Regions from separate parts of the Homo sapiens genome. Here region 2 is linked to region 1. Evidence: fine-mapped expression QTL. Tissue or cell type: whole blood. Region 1 holds a variant in brackets; the other region holds the start of a gene. All regions are shown on one strand. Distances are between the middles of the regions. Region 1 overlaps RAMP1 (receptor activity modifying protein 1). Region 2 holds the start of RAMP1 (receptor activity modifying protein 1).

Evidence for each region.
Region 2: RAMP1 starts here. The variant in region 1 is fine-mapped to the expression of RAMP1 in whole blood (INTERVAL, PIP above 0.99).

Annotation. Positions count from the first base shown.
Region 1 is chr2:237,888,681-237,898,776 of GRCh38, reverse strand. The region is part of intron 2 of RAMP1 (receptor activity modifying protein 1); the gene reads right to left. Among named protein-coding and RNA genes, the nearest start is that of RAMP1, 34 kb to the right of the region's middle. RefSeq lists enhancers at 2,906-3,784, 1-4,051 and a silencer at 9,433-9,633. The variant G/AAG (reference allele first, on the strand shown) is at 4,807.
Region 2 is chr2:237,855,130-237,865,225 of GRCh38, reverse strand. It overlaps RAMP1 (receptor activity modifying protein 1), which reads right to left and starts at 5,603. Exons shown (of 3, transcript NM_005855.4): 1 at 5,499-5,603. The coding sequence starts at 5,550. RefSeq lists enhancers at 6,216-7,002, 7,003-7,791.

The DNA.
Region 1 (10,096 bases):
AGAGGCCTCAGCCCGGGCCCTGGGGATGTGAAAGCCCACGCAGTGTAGCTTCCCACCTACGTCTGCGTGTGTGAGCTCGGGAGCCTGGCTTCCTGTCTCACTTCTGCCCAGCACTGCTGGAGGCAGCAGAGAACTGGGCACCTTTTGTTTTTCTTGACACTGGGGAAATGTATAAGGAAGTCTTGTTAACTGTTTGATGAAAAGCACTTCAGCACACTGTGCTGGCCTGGGAAATGTGTGCTGGGCCAGCAGGCTCTGAGCCAGCTGTGCACACCTGGAACTCCTACGGGTGAGTGGCTGCTCCCATCCCCCTGGGACTGGCAGCACGCGTGAGGGAAAGACGGATATTGTACTATCAAACCCTTCCTAAATCAGGCTGGTCAGAGAGTACAATCAAACTAGGGAAAAGGCCAAGCATTAGAAGTCCTATGTACCTGTGCCAGCCCAGGGATGCCTACACATTTGACCTACTGCATTGCTGAGACAGGAATGCTTTGAAATAAGTGTCATCACTGCATGCAAATGAATATGTTAAACAGGAATTTTCCCCAGGCTCTGACTATGGTTTATCTATTTAAGTTGTATTAACAGGGACTTCTGACATCTTAGCAAAGCCATTTTCCCAACAGCATAAGGGGAAATGCCAACTCCATCCCTTTCCAAAGAATTACAGCATCTGGCCAGGCACAGTGGTTCCCGCCTGCAATCCCAGCACTGTGGGAGGCTGAGGAGGGTGGATCACCTGAGGTCAGGAGTTTGAGACCAGCCTGGCCAACATGGTGAAACCCAGTCTCTACTAAAAATACAAAAATTAGCTGGGCGTGGTGGTGCACGCCTGTGGTCCCATCTACTCAGGAGGCTGAGGCAGGAGAATGGCTTGAACTCGGGAGGTGGAGGTTGCAGTGAGCTGAGGTTGCACCACTGCACTCCAGCCTGGGAGAAAGAGCGAGACCCCATCTCAAAAAACAAACAAACAAACAAAAAACAAAACCCCCCCCCAAAAAACCAAAACAAACAAAAAAAGAAGAATGACAGCATCCACGAGAGCATGTGTTTCTGAGGTTTCCACTAAGACACGTGGATCTGTAAACAAGAAGCCTCACCATAGGCTTCTTGCAAATACTTCGCCAAATCATGGAAGCCAATTCCATTCCACACCTTTGTTACCAGCTAAATATTGCACTTTACCACTGACTAGGTGCTTGCTGAACAAGGAGGACAAAGGCCTCTCTCTTGCAGGAAAAGGAACAACATGAATAACGCACCAAAGAAAGAATCTTGGGAGGGTTCAAGGAAACAGGAGGAAGACAGATGAAACGGGGCTCAGTGTTCTCGCTGCTGTGGAGGAGGCCACAATTCCTCCTGCAACACTCGCAGTGACTGTAGAGCATGCTGATGAAGCCGGAGAAAATGGCCAGCCCTCTCTGCACGTTGAGCAGGGAAGGCAGACACGGGACCACCTGTGGCCTTATTCTCACCTCCCCTCGCTCATGGCCTGTCTGGGCCTCAGGCTCTGTCCTGTCCCATGTCATCTGCTCTTTCAGTCTCCCTCTTTCCTGGCCTGAAGTGAAGCTGGTTCTCCCATTCCTGGGATGGAGGCTGAGGCCCAGGCGGGGCCCGTGGTTGCATGCGGGGCTCTGGGGTCCACCTGGACGGATGCACACCTCATGATAGCTGAGTGCCACACGGGAGCATCCGGTGAGCTGCAGGCATGTAAAAGAGGGACCCACTGAGGCTGGGGCAGGTGACCCCACCATCCCCACGGACAGCACATCACACCCCCAGGACATTTAAAGGCCTGGCCCCTCTGCTGTCCAAAAGTCTAAGAGGCTGGGTGCAGTGGCTCACGCCTGCAACCCCAGCACTTTGAGAGGCCAAAACAGGAGGATCGCTTGAGCCCAGGAGTTCCAGACCAGTCTGGGCAACACAGAGAGACTCCCCCATCTCTACACAAAGTTTAAAAGTTAGCCAGGAGTGGTGGTGTGTGCCTATAGTCCTGGCTACTTGGGAGGCTGAGTCAAGAGGGTTGCTTGAGTCCAGGAAGTCAAGTCTGCAGTGAGCTAAGATCATGCAACTGCATTCCAATCTAGGCGGCAGAGTGAGACCCTGCCTTAAAACAAAACAAAACAAAGTCTAAGAAAATACTAAGACCTGTTTCCCCGCGTGAGTGTGCTTCTCACATCACCCGAGGGCAGGTGTTCTTACCCCCTCCTTACAGAAAAGGGCGCTTGCTGAGGTGATGGGGAGGTCCCTGAGGCGGCAGTGCAGACTGGGGAACGGTCCAGGGGTCTGCCTGGGGGCTGCTTGGCCCTCCCTGGGCCTGGCTTCCTCTGCCTCCCTCCCCTTCTCCTGCTATGGTGGCCCCAGGCCGGGGAGGAATCTGGGCGCCTCTGCCCATGCTGGGAGAAGCGAGAGGTTTCTAAATCCATCCCTGGCTCCATGTGCAGCCAGGTCTGGCACCAGACACAGCCTGGGAGCTGCCAAGTCAGGCTCCCCACAGAGCAGCCACAGCAGGCGGGCGGACGGGCATAATACCTCCTCTGAGAACAGGCCTGGGCAGCGCCCTGGCTCCTGGGGCTGCCAAATGAAGTGCAGTTTTAAAATGCAGTGGGTGTCCCAGGCAAAGTCACAGACTGTCCTATGCTGGCTGCATCTGGGCCTGAGCAGGGGTTGCATTGCGTCCCAGGGTCCGAGGATCAGGGAATGCTGGGAGATCGCTGAGCTGTGCCCATTGTGGGCCGGGTGCTGAGGGCTCACTACAACCCCTGGGAGGTGTCCTGGCACCCCTGTGGGGACACCCAGGTCTAGCTGCCCAGCTGTGTGTGATGGGGCTGAGACCACACTCAGGCCTGTCCAGGCCCCAGGGTTCCCACCTCACGGGGACATGGGTGTGACATGTGTCCGAGTCTCAGGATTAAGCATGACAGCCGGCAAGCTATATTTGGATGCTAACACCCTGGGGGCATTGTCCTTGTGAAGCAACGCTGGCCTGGAGGCTGGACGGGCTCTGCCTTCCTATCCACCCCTGGTCTCAGCCCCAGCCAGCCGGCCCAAAGCATACTCACCCTCTCTGTACAAGAAACTCTCCCCCGATGCCACTAGACTCTTCAGGGACCCCTGCCGGGCTTCACGAGCCTTCAGCGACCCATCCTGCCCACCCACGGGGCGCCCTGCACCATGCTGGTCCCTGTTCGGGCATCCCACCAACTGGCCGCCTCCATCGGGGTAGCAGCCTTGCCACCCCTGCCCTCCTGCCACAATCTCACCTCGTTTGGAGCTCAGGGCAACACTGAGTGTGGGGAAAGGCCAGGCCAGGAAACATCCCAACGTGGGGTGTTCACTGTGGGGGTTTTGAGGAGTTGGCAGTTACGGAGCCTCGGTGTTTTCACCTTTAAAATGGGTTCAGTGATCCCTGGCTCACAGCAGCAGCGTGGTGAGAACTCCCTCAGAGGGCCACCACCATGCCATTCTCTGATGGGAGCCCATGACCCCCCCACAGGACCCCTTTGCACAGCAGGGGGTGGGCATGTGACTCGCGCTGCCCTGCCTTTGGATGGGAGCCCCACACAGGCAGGCAACACGTGGCCTCCTGTCTCGCTCCTGACTCGCTCTACAATCGCCACCATAGGGCTGACCTCAAGGGAGGGTGAGGGGCTCCAGAGGCCATGGTGCTGGGGGGCCGTGGCTCCAGGAGGGAGGGGGAGGTCCTGCCCTGCTGGGCCCTTGGTGGCTGGCACCATTGGCTAGGTGCCTGCTAAGTGCTCAGCAAATGGCTGCTGAGCTGAATCAGGTATCTGGATTCTGAAGGGTACCCTGCTACCAAGGTGCCTTCACCTAACTTGTCGAAGGAGAACCACAACCAGATAGGAGTAGGAACAGGCCACTCCTGTTCCCCAGGGCTGGCAACGCTTTGTCTCACCTCCTATGAACACGTGTCCCTTTGTTCCGTCTTTGAACGTGTTTGTGCACCACGGGGAGCCACATTCACCCGAGCAAGGGAGAAGGTTCCAGCCGTCCAGGGGCCTCTCCACAGTTCAAAAGCCACCTGGACAGCCTGGGCCTTGGAACTGCCACAGTGCACCAGGAGGATGAAGGTGCCAATAAATAAGTGTGGTGGGGACCCATAGAGCCTCAGCCCCGCCTGGCTTCTGGGATGGAGGGGTGGCAGGGGGGTCTCACCCCCTAGCCAGGTCCATCTGGGGCGGGGGATTCAGGCGCTGGTGCTGCCTGTCAGCAACATTCCCTGGTGGTCCTGGCTGCCCCAGGTCTGAGGACGTATGGCCTGCGGCTGCCCAAAGGGCCCTTCCACAGCCAGCCTCGCCCTGGCCTAGCTCCCACCCCAGCACTGCCCCCGGCTCCTCCTGCCTCCTTCCCACAATGGCAGAAATCTGGCCTCCCTGTAAAGAGGTGAGTTAATGTGTCCATTAGGCTTGGGGATAAAGGAAACTTTAATTCACTGCAGTATAATTAGTTTCAATTACAATATCCTAATTAAAAACTACTTTAGGCCGGGTGAAGTGGCTCACGCCTGTAATCCCAAGACTTTGGAGGGCCAAGGTGGGCTGATCACTTGAGGTCAGGAGTTCAAGACCAGCCTGGGCAACATGGCGAAATCCTGTCTCTACTAAAAATACACAAAATTAGCTGGGCATCATGGCATGCACCTGTAGTCCCAGCTTCTAGGGAGGCTGAGGCACAAGAATCACGTGAACTTGGGAGGCGGAGGTTGCAGTGAGCTGAGATCACGCCACTGCACTCCAGCCTGGGTGACAGAGTGAGACTGTCTCAAAAAAAAAAAAAAAAAAA[G/AAG]AAAGTATTTTTATTTTTACTTATTTTTTTGAGACAAAGTTTTGTGCTTGTTGCCCAGGCTGGAGTGCAGTGGCACAATCTTGGCTCACTGCAACCTCCACCTCCTGGGTTCGAGAGCAATTCTCTTTCCTCAGCCTCCGAGTAGCTGGGACTGCAGGTGCGTGCCACCACGCCCAACTGATTTTTGTATTTTTAGTAGAGACAGGGTTTCGCCATGTTGCTCACACTGGTCTCGAACTCCTGACCTCAAGTGATCCACCTGCCTTGGCCTCCCAAAGTGCTGGGATTACAGGTGTGAGCCACCATACCCGGCCGAAACTACTTTAGAAAGAGTAAAAAGCAGAATTTGTATTACAGGAAGTAAAAACAGATTATCTGGAAAAATGTATCTGGAAAAAGGATGTAACATGTACAGGTGGAAACAGTGCAAGATATGACAAAGAAGTGAAAGAAGGCAAAAATAATTCCACTGGAGCACAGAGGGGACAGAGGAGGGTGCCGGAGGAACCATGTCCGGAAACCTCAGCTATCGGGGAATGTCAGTGTCCGGTCCTGGAGAAAGGAGTCCGAGGAGGAAACTGCACTGCACACCAAAGCTTCTGCAGGCTTAACGAGGCCATCAGCAAAACAAGTTCTCACAAAATGTTTAAACCAAAAAGAATACTGCAAGCAACCACGCCAGGAAGGAGGAGGTCAGATTTTAAAAATATACATAAATCACAATCCCTTCTGCCTTCTCTGATGACATCCCAAACACCCAGAGACAATGGAACAACAGCTACAGGAACTTCACAGAACAAGGTTGCTCCTTGGAGATTTATTATCTTGCCAAGCTGTCACTCACGTTGCAAAGACGGCAGAGAGCTCCTTAGAAATTGTTGAATTCTGAGAATGTATTAATCACATGGCTTATTTCTAGGACCTACTTGAAATAATCTCCTGAATTTAAAAGGTAACATGTAAAAGGGAATGATGCTAGAAATAAGACACGCTTGAATTAACAACCTATTTGCAAAGATAAGTAAACAAGAGCCCTATCAGAGCAAGGGTTATTACTGATAAAAGTATGCAAATAGTGCAACTGTCAGAAAAACAGCGTAAAAATTAAAAACCAAATTACATAGAAGACAGAAAGGAAAAAGTAGGTTTTAGAACATTAATTGCAATCATTGAGGAGAAGGAAGAAGTGGGGGAGGGAGAGAAGGATGGAGAAGAGAGAGAGAGAGAGAGAGAGAAGAGGAAGCCCAAAACCCAGATTCCTGTCATCTCACACAGGGGAGGCCAAAGTGTGTGGTTGGACAATGTAAGATAATAAGTACAAGATAAGAACATCTGTTTGCTTCACATTTCATGGCTGGTTGAATGAAAAACAGCTTGCCAATATTTCAGTAATAATAGAAGAGAAAACACAGGCTGGGCACGGTGGCTCACACCTGCAATCCCAACACTTTGAGAGGCCAACATGGGAGGATTGCTTGAGCCCAGGAGTTCAAGACCAGCCTGGGCAACACAGTGAGACCCCATCTCTACAAAAAATAGAAACAATTAGGCAGATGATGTGGTGCATGCCTGTAGTTCCAGCTACTTGGGAGGCTGAGGTGGGAGGATCTCTTGGGCCCAGGAGGTTGAGGCTGCAGTGAGCCATGATCACACCACTGCACTCCAGCTTGTCTCAAAAAAAAAAAAAAAAAAAAGAAAGAAAGAAAGAAAAAACACATGGTGTTTCAACAATTGAGGGAAAAGAAAAGTAATCAGCATGGAAAGATAAACAATTAAGACAAAAATTGGAGTGCCTGAAGATTGAAAAAATACAACTTAATTTCCTGTGTTAAAAGGCTTGCCACTCTCCAGAAGAAAAAATGAAATCCAGCAATAAGCTGTGGGCAAGAGAGGTCATTAAAACAAAATAGGAAGACTAAAAAGAGTTACCAGTAAACTTCAAGTAGTTGAAAGGCTGGGATTCCAATGTTAATATATAGCAAAAAATAATTTAGAGCAAAAATGATTACATGTGATAAGGAGAGGTATCAGGATGAGAGGCATGGGTGGTGGCAGCATAATTACATGGAATCTAAATGCCATAAAGACAGAGCAAAACATATATGCAAATATCTCTGAGAAAAAAGAAGTAGAAATGATAAAAATATGATTATAAAATTAAAATACTTCATTATCAACTACATAAGAAATTCAGCAACACATAAAGGAGCTGAAGATCAAAACAAGGTAACATTAATGGTTGTTTTGGTGGGGATTAAATAGAACAAACAGATAATTTCTTCTTTTTCAAGTATTCATTGTATGTTCACAAAAAGTCATCATATACTAGTCTCAAATCAAATCTCCATAAAAATACAAAAGCAGAAATGATTCAGGCTACATTTCCTCCCTACGGCAAAAAAAGAGATTAAGAACAAACAGAAATAGAAATAGTATATTTTAAAATATACTTACCTAAGGAAAAAATTGTCTTGAGAAGAAAGTCAAGAAGACAATATCTGTCTGTTAAGAAAATACAATGGGCTGGGCGCGGTGGCTCACGCCTGTAATCCCAGCACTTTGGGAGGCCGAGGCAGGCGGATCACGAGGTCAGGAGATCGAGACCATCCTGGCTAACACGGTGAAACCCTGTCTCTACTAAAAATACAAAAAATCAGCCGGGCGTGGTGGCGGGCGCCTGTAGTCCCAGCTACTCAGGAGTCTGAGGCAGAAGAATGGCGTGAACCCGGGAGGCGGAGCTTGCAGTGAGCCGAGACCATGCCACTGCACCCTCACTCTGGGTGACAGAGTGAGACTCCGTCTCAAAAAAAAAAAAAGAGAATACAATGAAAAAAACTGACATATCAAAACCTATAGAAAGTGATGAATGAGGAAAGTCCTTAGAGAAACACATCACAGCCTTAAATGTCTTTATTATTTTCAAGAAAAGTGAGAAAAATGATGAACTAAGGATTGAAATCATATCTTAGGAAAGAAACAATTTTAAGAAAGGGAAAAGGGGGGAAGTGAGTGGTAAAAGTTAAAGCAAAAAAACTGAGAAAAGACACGGTGATGCAAAGTGTGGCCTATTTTCTAAAGACTACAAAACTGGGCATGTGCGGTTCATTAAACAGTGGCCTCTCAGTTCCTTTTGATGAATGAAATAGCATCTAAACAAAGAAAAAAAGGGGAAAGAAGAAACACAGCAAAAACAAAAGTGGAGGCATAAGCTTGAGTCTAAGGGATATTAAACACGTAAAGGAATACTATGCAGCATGTTTCAGTTAACTGAGAAATCTGAAGGACATAGACCAAATAAACACAGATGAAGATAACCGTTAAAACAAGAGCTAGAAAGTCAAAATAAATCAATAGTGGAGGAAGTAACTGGAGAAGGAAATCCCCCAAATTACTGAGGTTTGATGGTGTTAGTGATGAATTCATTCAAACTTCTAAGAAATAAGTAATTCTCACATCACAAATTATTTCTGGCTCGGTGCAGTGGCTCATGCCTGTAATCCCAGCACTTTGGGAGGCCGAGGCGGGTGGATCACTTGAGCCCAGGAGTTTGAGACCAGCCTGGGAAACACAGTGAAACCCCATTTCTACCAAAAATACAAAAATTAGCCAGGCGTGGTGGTGAGTGCCTGTAGTCCCAGCTACTCAGGAGGCTGAGGCAGGAGGATCACTTGAACCCAGGAGGTGGAGGTTGCAGTGAGCCAAGATCACACCACTGGACTCCAGCCTGGGTGACACAGTGAGACTCTGTCTCAAAAAAAAAAAAAAATTATTTCCCACCCTTGATTCTAATGGTGGGCTAGCATGTCTATCCCATTAGGCAAACGTGGTCCTAACCCTAAAACCTGATTAAGGAAACACAAAGAGGAAAATCCGGAGCTTCCTTATTCATCACTTTCTATACCCATTTTACTGGGGAGGCCGCAGAGGCTCACAGCGCTGAAGGAGGGACGCAGCCGGCGGGGTTTCTGCAGGCGGGCCCCACTTGGCACTGCATGCTTGGTCCCCAAGGTCCATGGTAGTTTTCCTACTATTCGCTAAAAAGCAGTATCAGGTAACAACCCATCAAACTGTAATCCCAGCACTTTGGGAGGCTCAGGCAGGAGGATTGCGTTAGCCCAGAATTCAAGACCTGCCTGGGTAACATAGGGAGACCTCATCTCTACAAAAAAATAAAAATTAGCTGGGTGTGGTGGCACATGCCTGTAGTTCCAGCTATTTGGGAGGCTGAGGTGGGAGGATTGCTTGAGCCCAGGAGGTCGGGGCTGCAATGACTTTTTATGGAATTTAGCAACATGATTCTTAAGTTCTTTTGGAAAAATAGGCAGAAAATATATCAAAGCATGCAAAACATAATGTAAAATATAATGAAAATGAAACATGGTAGGAGAGGCCTTCTAAATTGTAGGAAATATTGTAAAGTTGTGGTAATTTAAATGGCGTGGTACGACCCCAGAATATAAGTAAAAATTATTTCAAATAGACTCTAATGCACATAGGAAGCTATTATGTGTTAAATTAAGCAACACAAAACAATGGAGGTTGGCGACATTATTTAACAAATTCTGTTAGGATAATTGAGGTGGGAAGGAAATACATTTCTGTCCATCCACTGTGTTAAGAAGATACATATCATTTCAAAACACAGAACAACTACAAAGACACAGAACATAATCTTGTGGGCATATGACTCTCACAATTGAGACGACAGAGTCTGTGGACAGTTACAGCTGTGCGGAGGTCACACGGTCACTGACTGATGAGGGGTGAATGGGAGCATCCATGTGTTCACAGATTAGCTAATGAACGACAGTGTGGAAAATGAACATCAAAAGACACACAAACGAAACAAGAAAATATTTAGAGCACAATGGCAAATAGTTAATATATATATTCTTCAAGAATCTATGGCCGGGCAAAGTGGCTCATGCCTGTAATCTTGGGAGGCCGAGGCGGATGGATCACTTGAGGTCAGGAGTTCGAGACCAGCCTGGCCAACATGGTGAAACCCCGTCTCTATTAAAAATACAAAAAATTAGCTGGGCGTGGTGGCGGGTGCCTGTAGTTCCAGCTACTCAGGAGGCTGAGGTAGGAGAATCACTTGAACCCGGGAGGCAGGGGTTGCAGTGAGCCAAGATTGTGCCGCTGCACTCCAGCCTGGGCAAGAGAGGGAGACTCCGTCTCAAAACAAACAAACAAAAAAAAGAATTTGTAAAAGAAGATTAAAAATACCTCCAATGGGCATATGGGAAATCTCTGTACCTTCCTCTCAATTTTGCTGTGAACCTAAAAC
Region 2 (10,096 bases), 34 kb after region 1:
TCTGCCAGGTGCTGTTCTTCATTCCTCAGCGCTGCCTCACTTCCTGCATCCAGGCCCAGGGACTGGAGTCCATCACTTTCGCCTCCAGGACTCCCTGGAACCCTCCCACTCCTATCCTTGCCTGGCCTCCTGCCCATGCTGGGGGCCACAGCTGAGGGCTCCTTTAAACCACACCTTCTGTCCTGTCACCCCCTTTAATGTCCTTCAAGGTTTTCCCACTGCCCTAGGAATGAGATCTGAATGCTTAGAGAATGGGTCTTTCCTCCAGCACCAGCTTCGGCTCAAAGCCCTCTTCCCCACCATGCTTCAGTCAAAAAGGCTTCCAGGAACTTCCAAAGCAGGGCCTTTGCACAACCGTCCTTGCCCTCTGCCCTCTGGACTGTGCTGCCGCTGCTCCTCAGGGCTGTGCTCCGTGGTCTCCTGTTTATTTCCTGCTGCATTTAAGTAGCACCACATGTCTACATGGTTGACATGCAGCAGGGCTGCCCCACCCTGGCACTATGGACATTTGGTGTGGGATCATCCTCTGGGGGAGCTGCCCTGGGTTGTGTAGGACACCCTACTGTAGCAGGCTGCTCTGCACCCCTGTCCTTTGCCCCCTCCGAGTCCTGACCCTGGGTGTCCCACGTGTGTGAGAGTCCTGACCCTGTGTGTCCCGTGTGTGAGGTGGCAGATGGGTGTTTCCAGGAGAAACGGTGCAGCGCTTTCCCGGCATTCCCTCATCCATCCACCTCCCCCGCTTCCCTCTCACAACTGTCTCCTCCAGAGGCAAGAAAATCCCTGCAGAGAGAGCCACCCCGGGTGTCAGTCACCAAGTGTCCATTGAAGAGGCAATGCTTTCTAGGCTTCTTCCCCTCCCGGCCTGGGGCCAGGGTACCTGACAGCGGCAGGCCTTACGAAGCAAACACGCGCATGGTTGGGCAAATCACTGACTTTTCTCCTCCCAGGTGGTGTCAGACTCAAGACAGTCCTTCCTGAGACTCGTGTGGGGATACGTGGTCCGGGAGAACAGGGGGCAGGGCTTCCTGGGCAAGCTGTACCCCACCCCCTGGAGTGAGCTGGCCCAGGCCACGGGCCAGGTCACTCTGCCTCCCCTCCTGCCCCCGTGGTTTCCCAGAACTCTCAGCTAATTCAGGAGCTGCTTCCCCGGAGCCAAGGCCTGGGGGCCTGAACATGGCATGTGTGGGGGTGACACTAACGTACCCTGAGGGTCTGCTGGGGGCACAGAGGAAGACCCCCTGTCCCTGGGGTGGTGGGTGGGGTGGGGGTTCTGGGAGGCTGGGCAGTTGTCCCCGTGAGGGGTGGAGGTGGTGCTGACCCTGGCGGAGGGCACAGTGGACAGCCGGGGCCTGGGGTTTTGGGATTCTGGTTCTCGGTCCCAGAGAATCCACCATGTGACTGCACATGGGAGGGAGTGAAGCACTCTCGGAGCACGGGGAGGAGTCACCGAGAGAGCTGAGAACGTAGAGTCGGGGGGCCTGTGACTCAGGCCCATAGCCCTGCACTCCTGCCACATCTGGCTAGTGTGTCCCCCTGGACCCTGCTCCAACAAAGCCACCCAGAAGCCGTGATTTAAAAGATGGTTAAAGTGATGCCTTTCGGATGCCCCAGAAATTACTGAAATAAACCATCTTAGGAAAAAAATATTTTTCCTGAACAGAATAACATCATTCGGTGAAGTGAGTACGATTTTGTTTGGGCTGGGAGCCCTCCTATGGTGGCCGTGTTGACGCATCCTCCTCACTAAGGAGAAACAGGTCCTCCAGGAACATCACCCAGCTGAGAGTCCTCCTGTTCTGGAGCAGAGAGGACTGGGGACAAGGACATCCCTCCAGGGCTTCATATGTCTGCTGTGGGATGTGTCAGAGGTAGGCAGGGGGTATGGCAGGCTGGGAACTGAACAGTGCCCTGGCAGCACCGTCTCTGCCTCTTCATTTGCCACCAAGAAACTGGTGGGCTGGGGCAGTGGGCACATGGTCCAGCAAGTGCTGGAGCCACCAGGGCCACTGTAGCCCGGGCTCCCCTGTCCCCTTCCCAGCTCCCACTGTCTTCCTGGCTGCAGCACCTCTTCTTTCAGGAGGCCTCCCTGGGTCCCCAGTGGAGGAGGAGGCTCTTGGGCAGGATTCCCACAGTCCCCCAGGTACGCCATTCTCGGAGCCCCCTGAGCCTGCCGTCCCTGCAAGGGACAGACACCCATCTCAAACGTTATGGGTCACATGATGGAAATGTGTACCCCATGAGCTCGATCTAGGGGCTCAAAAGGCTTCAGGAGTGCTCTATGTCATGGACAGGTACTCCCCCATGGCTCACAGGGTAGACTGTGGCAGCCCCACTCAGATCCAGCCTGGAGGAAAGACGCAGCTTTTCCCCGTGGTTCCAGCAGAACACTGACTGTCCAGCCTGCGGCCAGTCTCCTCCCTGGGACCATCTGGATGGCCAGGCCTGGCTCAGAGACCACTGAGGGCCAGCCCACCATACCACAAAGACCGTCAGGAAAGAGGGGTTCTAGGCCTGAGTTGGGGGTGGGGGCACTGGCAGGGGCACTGGCAGGCAAGCCCGAGGGGCTTCACTCTCTGGGCTCAGCATTTCCGCTGGAATTCACACTACACATGGCACCTGCATCACACAGTCAGCCAGACGCCAGTTGTAACTGATTAGAAGCTATGAAATGGGCGCATTCTGGGGAAAAAAATCAGGACAGACTTTTCCAACTAGCCTTAACTAAAGATTCCACCTAAAACATTTCCCGGAGCTGAATCTACCATTTGCACTGTGGATATAAATGTTTCTCAACAGCCCTGGCCTCGGACTGGTAATAAGCACGCTGACAGGCATGCGCCTGTGGAAGGAAGACAAAAATCCAGAAATTTCTTCCTGCAGCTAGACACACAGAGAGGGTAAACAAACACACTGAGTTGATTAACAAATAAGAATCCTTCAGATTTGGACTTTGGCATGAGAACTGTGTCCAGATTTAAAACCGCATGGCAATCTGAAGCAGTCACATAGCATTTCCTGTGATGTCCCTGTCATTCCAATTCTACTTGTATTTATATAAAGTCATACATTTCAATTAATGTTGCAGCCATTAAAAAAACCCCTGGCTCCCACGTGACAGCCAAGGAAGGCATGCGTTTCCTAGGACAGGTGACTGAGTTCATGTGTGACAGCACCAGCCAGCATTCCCTGAGTGAAGATGGACTCGAAAAACCAGGGGCTTCTAACGCATCCTTCTTTCCTGGTTAACGAACAGCTTTTCGGTGTCTATACACAAACTTTTCAGAATGCATGTAGAGTCTCCAGTAAACAGAAGAGTACACAGGATGCTCAGAGGGAAAAGAACTATATATGGATCCTAAGTTTTTTTTTTTTTTGAGACGGAGTTTCACTCTTATCACCCAGGCTGGAGTGCAGTGGCATGATCTCAGCTCACTGCAACCTCTGCCTTCTGAGTTCAAGCGATTCTCCTGCCTCAGCCTCCCAAGTAGCCGGGATTATAGGTGCCTGCCACCATGCCTGCCTAATTTTTTTTGTATTTTTAGTAGAGACGGGGTTTCACCATGTTGGCCAGGCTGGTCTTGAATTCCTCACCTCAGGCGATTCACCCACCTCAGCCTCCCAAAGTGCTGGGATTACAGGCGTGAGTCACCATGCCTGGCCGGATTATGAGATTCTTAATAACTACCTAAGACAAATAGCTTGATTGTAAAATTGTCACAGATAAGTTCTTAAACCTGTAAACTAGAGTACTTAAAAAAATTCCACATTGCCATTCTTGGTAGCAAAATCTTCATCACCAAGGAGACCTGGCTAGTGCTACAGCTTGGGAAGGAAACAGCCTGTGCTCAGTAATTCTACTAATTACAGCTGGGCTCCAATGACATTAATTTACTGATAACCTCATAAAGTTTTGTTTGTTCTTCCAAGAGATAACATTAGCCAGGCCACTCAAAATAACGTTAAAATTACAGGACTTTGGACTTTCGGCAGAACATGAATAGTTTTCTCGGTAAACAAGGAAGGTCTTTATATGTGATCGTGACATAGTGTTTTATTTACACAAGCTTTAGAGGGTTCAGCCTCTGGACACTAGTAAAGAACGTTTATTTATTTGGTTATTTATGTAAAAAATATTCCACAACCCAGCTCTCTGCCTTGCTAACAAAGAAATGTTTGTTTCTTAGTAAATGAAAACAGTGAAGGCCATGTCAAGCCAAATGGAGAGAATAAAATTACTGCGAGATTCTGCTTTCCACGTAACTTCAGCCAAAACTCTAAAGTGGCAAGATCCGCTTTCAGATTATATTATATCGGCCTCTGAGGATTCTATGCAGATCTGCCACCCCTTGGAGAGGTTTACAAATAGGGAACAGAAATCCATGGCTCCCAAGAAGCCCTGGCCCCTCTCCTCGCTGGGCCACGAACCACTCCCCCAGCTACAACAGCGCCGGTGGTCCCTGCTTGCCCAGTGCCAGCGCCAAAGAGGTCTTGTGCGGCAGGTGCCTCTGACCAACATCACTGTTTCCGGGGAAAGGCCACACATACCAGAAACAACTGCTCCGGCCTTCCCAGGGACACTGGGTTCTCCCACGCCAGTAACCTATTCACAGTTTCCGTTAAAAGGTAGCTAAATACACGGAATAATGCAATAGCCAAAGCGGTTTAGAAGGGGCTTGAGTTAGCATTTTAGGAACACATTACAGACAAGGGAAGTGAACAGCACCGTTTCTTGCCGAGTGTGTGGCCAGTTCCTGTGGCCATGAGGCTGCCGCTAATCTCCACTTCTCCCTCCAAGTGGAAAGCCAAACGTGTTCCACCACTTCACCAAGGGACCCGTCCTTCTTTAAATTTCTATTAGCCAAAAGTGCCAAGTTAACAAGCAAACCAAAAGAAAAAAGAAAAAAAGCGATGGAAGTGTCCCGAAAAGGGCTGGCCTCATTTCTGCAAAAGACGTGATTTGCAAACAAGCAACTGCTGCAGGCGACAGATTGTCAGTGTTGACTAATTTCCATACAAACCGGCTGTGGTTCTGATTCCCGAACACTGCGTCTTCTGCAAGGTGCCCGTCTGCAGGTTTTGCAACGCGGGACGGCCTAGGGAAGGGAGCCTGCGCTGGCAGTCACCGCGGCGCACAGCCTGAGAAACGAGGTGCGGGGCTGGGGAACCCCGCGTCCTGTTTTTCCTTCTGAAAACTAGTTCTCCAGTGTGCAGGGCTGACTCACCCCACGCTTTCCAGAATGCCCGCTCTCCGACGTCCCCAAAGCCGTCCCTTCCCCGGCGAGAAGCGCAACACCGGTCCGCGCCCTCCGCCTCCCCTGTGCCCTGGGGCCTCCCGCCTGGAACCGGGGCGGCCCGCGTTCAAGGGCAGCGGATCTGTGCGCCCGCGGCGCCCGCCCCCACCCGCTCCCACCCGCTCCCACCCGCTCCCCTCCTCTCCCCTAGAGGACACCGGCTGGCCAGGGGAAGGGAGCTCGGCCGGGACCCCTGGACCTACTCACCCAGGAGCAGCCAGAGGCCGCGCCGCGGGAGGCGGCACAGGGCCCGGGCCATGGTGCACAGCGGTGCCGAGTCGAGTCCGCTCGCCACGCGCCCCGCTGAGGACTGAGCCCGCCGCGGCGCGGGCCCGGAGGAGACGCGCCGGGGGCGGGAGCGGGCGCGGGAGCGGTGGGAGGCGGCGGCCGCGCGGCCCGGCCCACTGCGGCTCCCCGCGTGGGTGCCAGGGCCGGGGGCGCCCAGGGCCGGTAAAACTTTGCAGGGGGGCCGCGCGGGCGTCTCCAGGCCCCTCCCGGGGGGCGGCACACTTGGGGTCCCAGGAAGGCCTCCTGAAATGTTCTCCGAGCAAATAAACACTTTTTAAACTAGGGAGGGTCTCCTAGACGACTCAGCGTGAGGGGCACCTTGGTCTCCACCTGGGGATCTTCCCCTCCTCCTCCTCCGAGGTTCTGGGCGTTCCTGCCTGGTGTTTGCCTTGCAAAAGGCTAAGATCTCCCAGCCTTATCTACCTCTCCGCCCAGGTGCAGGCGCTGGGGAGCGTGGGGGGCAAAACTCGCCACCGCGCCTGGCGAGACCCGTAGTAACCCAAAATGGCGCACACTTACCAGGCCCTGGAATGCTGCTCCAGATCTGCAGGATGAGTGGGTGGGCAGAGGCGGGGACAGCACGGCAGGTGAACAGAAGCCGTGGGGCTGGAGGAACAGGGCTCTTTGGGGGGATTGAGATGGCCTGGGAGTCTTGCTGTTGATGGGTAGGTAGCGAGAGCCTGGCAGGAGGTTGTGAGGGCCTGGCCACAGAGTCTTGAGATGAGGTTTGCTTTGGTGGCACTCTGGCAGCTGCATGGAAAACTGATGGGGGATCTTGGGTACATTCGTTTATGTAAAGTGGTGAGAGGAGGGCGCTCTGGAGATGGGCCGGGGAAGCCTGCGGAGGAGCAGGTTTTGGGAGGCACAGGCCTGGCCTCTCGGCATTACTGGTGGCTGGATTTCACTTGCAGTGGTTCCTTCTTGTATTATCCTGTTCCGAGAACTCTTAGCAACAGTAAATTTATACTTGTGCTAAGGAATGCACCACTGCCCTTGGAGGGGGAAGAATCACCACCCTGGTGCTGCGGCCACAGCTGTCTCTTTTGTGGTGGAAGCTGCAAGCGCACAGCATTGCTGAGTGACCATCGTTTTCTCCTAGGAAAGGGAACAGTCTGTGGCTGAGAGGCTGCTGCCACCTGCAGTAAGCTCAGAGAAGGGGAGACAGCTGACAGCGAGGTCATCCACTGGTTCTTCTAACACAGGCTGGGAGGGCACTCAGGGCCAGCATGCCTACCACCTGTGCAGGGGCCCCAAGTGTTCTGAGAGTGAGGGGTGAGATGGTGGGGGAGGGCACACATTCTCTTGACTTGATTAGCCCTTGTTCTTGAACCCTAGGAGATACACCCCATTGGGTGGCCTGGCATCCCTACTTTCTTCATTTAACAGACATTTGTGTCCCTATGTGCAAGACACTGTTAGATCGACAAGCCCTGCCCTTCAATTGGTGAATCTAGGGGGTGACCTCTAAGACTCTCAATAACATGAGCGCCACAATACAGGAGCCACCCGGAACAAGGGACACTCGCCTCAGCTGCAGTGCAAGTAAGGAGACAAAGGATTCTGGACAAAATGCAGCCCAGGCAGTCCTGAGGGCTGGGTGGAGAGAAGGGCACAAGGGAAATGCAGGCCCGAGCACAGGCCTGGCAGCCAGAGGCCGTGCCATGTGAGAGCAGCACAGCTAGTGGGGAAGGGTGGCTGCCAGCACAGCCCTGGGACAGGGCCACCGTACATCCTGCACTAGGCGATGGCCAGTCATAGTGGGGGAGAAGAACCTGCATCTTTCTGCAGCCATCACTCGCCCTCCATATCCAGGGACTCTGGCTTGAGCCACCCTTTCTACTTGTAGCTTGTGGACTTTGGCTGCATGTTTTTGGTTGGCAACTGGGACTCCTCTTTCATCAGGCTCAGCAGGAGTCTTTCTTCCCAACGTTTTCTCTTTGAAGCTTGACTGCAAGGAGGCAAGGCCAGAGGCCCCTGTCACTGCTGTTTTCTCAACACCCCCTAAAGGATACATTTTCCTAAGAAGACAAAGCCTATTTCTCAAGTTCACATGCTTTAGAAATTCACAGTTCTCTGGAGAATGCTGAAGTAAGGCACACACCTAGAGGCATGTTCTCTCCTAATGATTTTCCTGTCTGTACCTTGGGTCTAAGTAAGACATTCCTTAGCAACTACTATGGGCTTCCCGTCTTCAAAAGTTGTAGTCTGATGTATCTGTATTTCTAATTGGTCATAGGTAGCATGGAAAATCATTCCTCTCCCAGGGTACCTCAATCTAGAGGGGCATTAGGTTAAACAATAGAAGAGATTAGAAAATGGCCAAGTGCTTTACTGCATACACAGTAGGGCTAAAGATACAATCAAAGCCTGGTCAACACTGCTAAAAATTCACTATTAACATAAGATTCCTGCTTCCAGCCGAGATGAAGTTACAGGGACTGGACTCACCTTCCCATCTTAAACTAAAAAACTGGACAAAATGTATGAAACAACAGTTGTCACAGTGGACCACAAGAAGTGCAGGGACCCCTGAGAGCAGGGAAACAAATAAGGTGAGTGCTACAACTGCTCACTGCCTGGAGTTTGCAGACCACAGATGGAGAAAGGAAACCCAAAGAGAGTCTGGGGAAGCCAGGCAGTTAACGCTGGCAGGGCATAGTACCAGAGAGGAAAGAGCTGCGCAAAGAATGCGCTTGCGAGATCACAGAGGGTCCCACTTGAGTCTCAGCCCACACATCTAAGGACACTACCCAAGGGAAAAGAGCCTAAGAGCCCACACCCAGCTGGGAATAGTTCCAGTTCCCACCAACCATAGTGGAAAAATCTTGAAATACACAGAACATCAGAGCATAATTAGAAGGGCAAGTCCCTCTCTGTAGTCAGTAAAAATTACAAAGGCTATTCTGGTGCTGCCTAACAAAACTTAAAAGCAAGAACTAACAGGAGCAAATGATTTCCAAGTAGCTATTACATCCCGTAACTTAAAAACAATAAAAGAACAAAGCATCAGAGAGCCATGAGGCAACTCCAGGTGGCAACTCTAAGGTGTAACTGGAGCCCCTGGAGGAAGATGGGTGGGAAATATGTGAAAAACCACTATGTGGAACATTTTCTATTAACCCATGAGCCAAGAACATCCCCAAACTCCAAGCACAAAAATCATTTAGAAAAATATGTGAAAGCACATCACGATCAAATTGCCTAAAGCCAGTAATAAAGAGAAAACCTTAAAAGCAGCCAGAGAGAGAAGACATTACGTATAGCAGGGGTCCCCCAACCCCACAGGAGTACCAGATCATGGCCTGTTAGGAACCTGGCCTCACAGCAGGAGGTGAGCAGCGGGTGAGCTAGTGAAGCTGAGGTCCGCATCTTGTTAGATCAGCAGTAGCTGATCTAACCCTACCGTGAACTGTTCATGCAAGGGATCTAGGTTGCACTTCTTATGAGAATGATGATCTGAGGTGGAACCGTTTCATCCCTAAACCATCCCCCTCTCACCCCATGGAAAAATTGTCTTCCACAAAACCAGTCCCTGGTGCCAAAAAGGCTAGGGACTGCTGATGTACAAAACACAGGTAAGGGTGACAGAAGAGTTCTCATGGGATATAATGCCACCAGAATACAATGGAACGTTTTTAAGTACTGGAAGGAAAAAAGCATCAAATATTCTACAGATAGTTTTTCAATAACTTGCTGATATGAAGGGGAAGACTCCACTGGTGTCCTCACTATCAGGCCTGCAATTTAAAGGCTGAACTTCAATCATTATCAATAATGAATCAGTGGTTCTGAAGATAACATGCTTATAAGCAATAACAACTTAGTTCTGTGAGTTGTTTAAATCGTGCAATTGCTGGATAAACACTAACAAAAACAGCAGTATCTCAGGGAACTCAGGTTCATCAACTATCAATTTTTCAAGTCCTGCAGGAAGTCCCACTGTTAAAACCAACACACTTGCAAGTAGCTGAGAACAGAAGTTGCCTATCTCCCCTATTCCCCCAAGAAACAAAACAAACAAAAAACAAGAAGTGAAAAATAAATTCTATATAAAACTGTCCTCAGCATTACTTGGAGAATTTTCCAACTGCAAAGGAGCTGAGTAACAGGGAAAAAATTCCCACCAAATCCCACTACACAACTCACACTCCTATACTACCCTCAGCCAGCCACATGCTTAGTGTGAGCAAAGGCAGACTGAGAAAAATCGTGGAGCCAAGAGGGAGGCTGATGAACAGGCCTACGGGTGATATGAAACAATCTCCAGAAAGACGAACTCTTAACACTCTAGACGTGAAAAATTTAAAATACCCCAATACCATAGAGACAAACAAGAGACAAGTCCATCTAGAGCTACTGCAGAAAACCGGGACATGAAATGTCAGACATACAAACTGAAGGAACCCCTAACCTCTAGGAGACTATATTACAAATGTGTAACATAGCCACCCTGGGTGGATCAGGAATAAAAGACATAACCTAAGCACATTTAGACAAAAGAGCAAAAGACAAAAGAA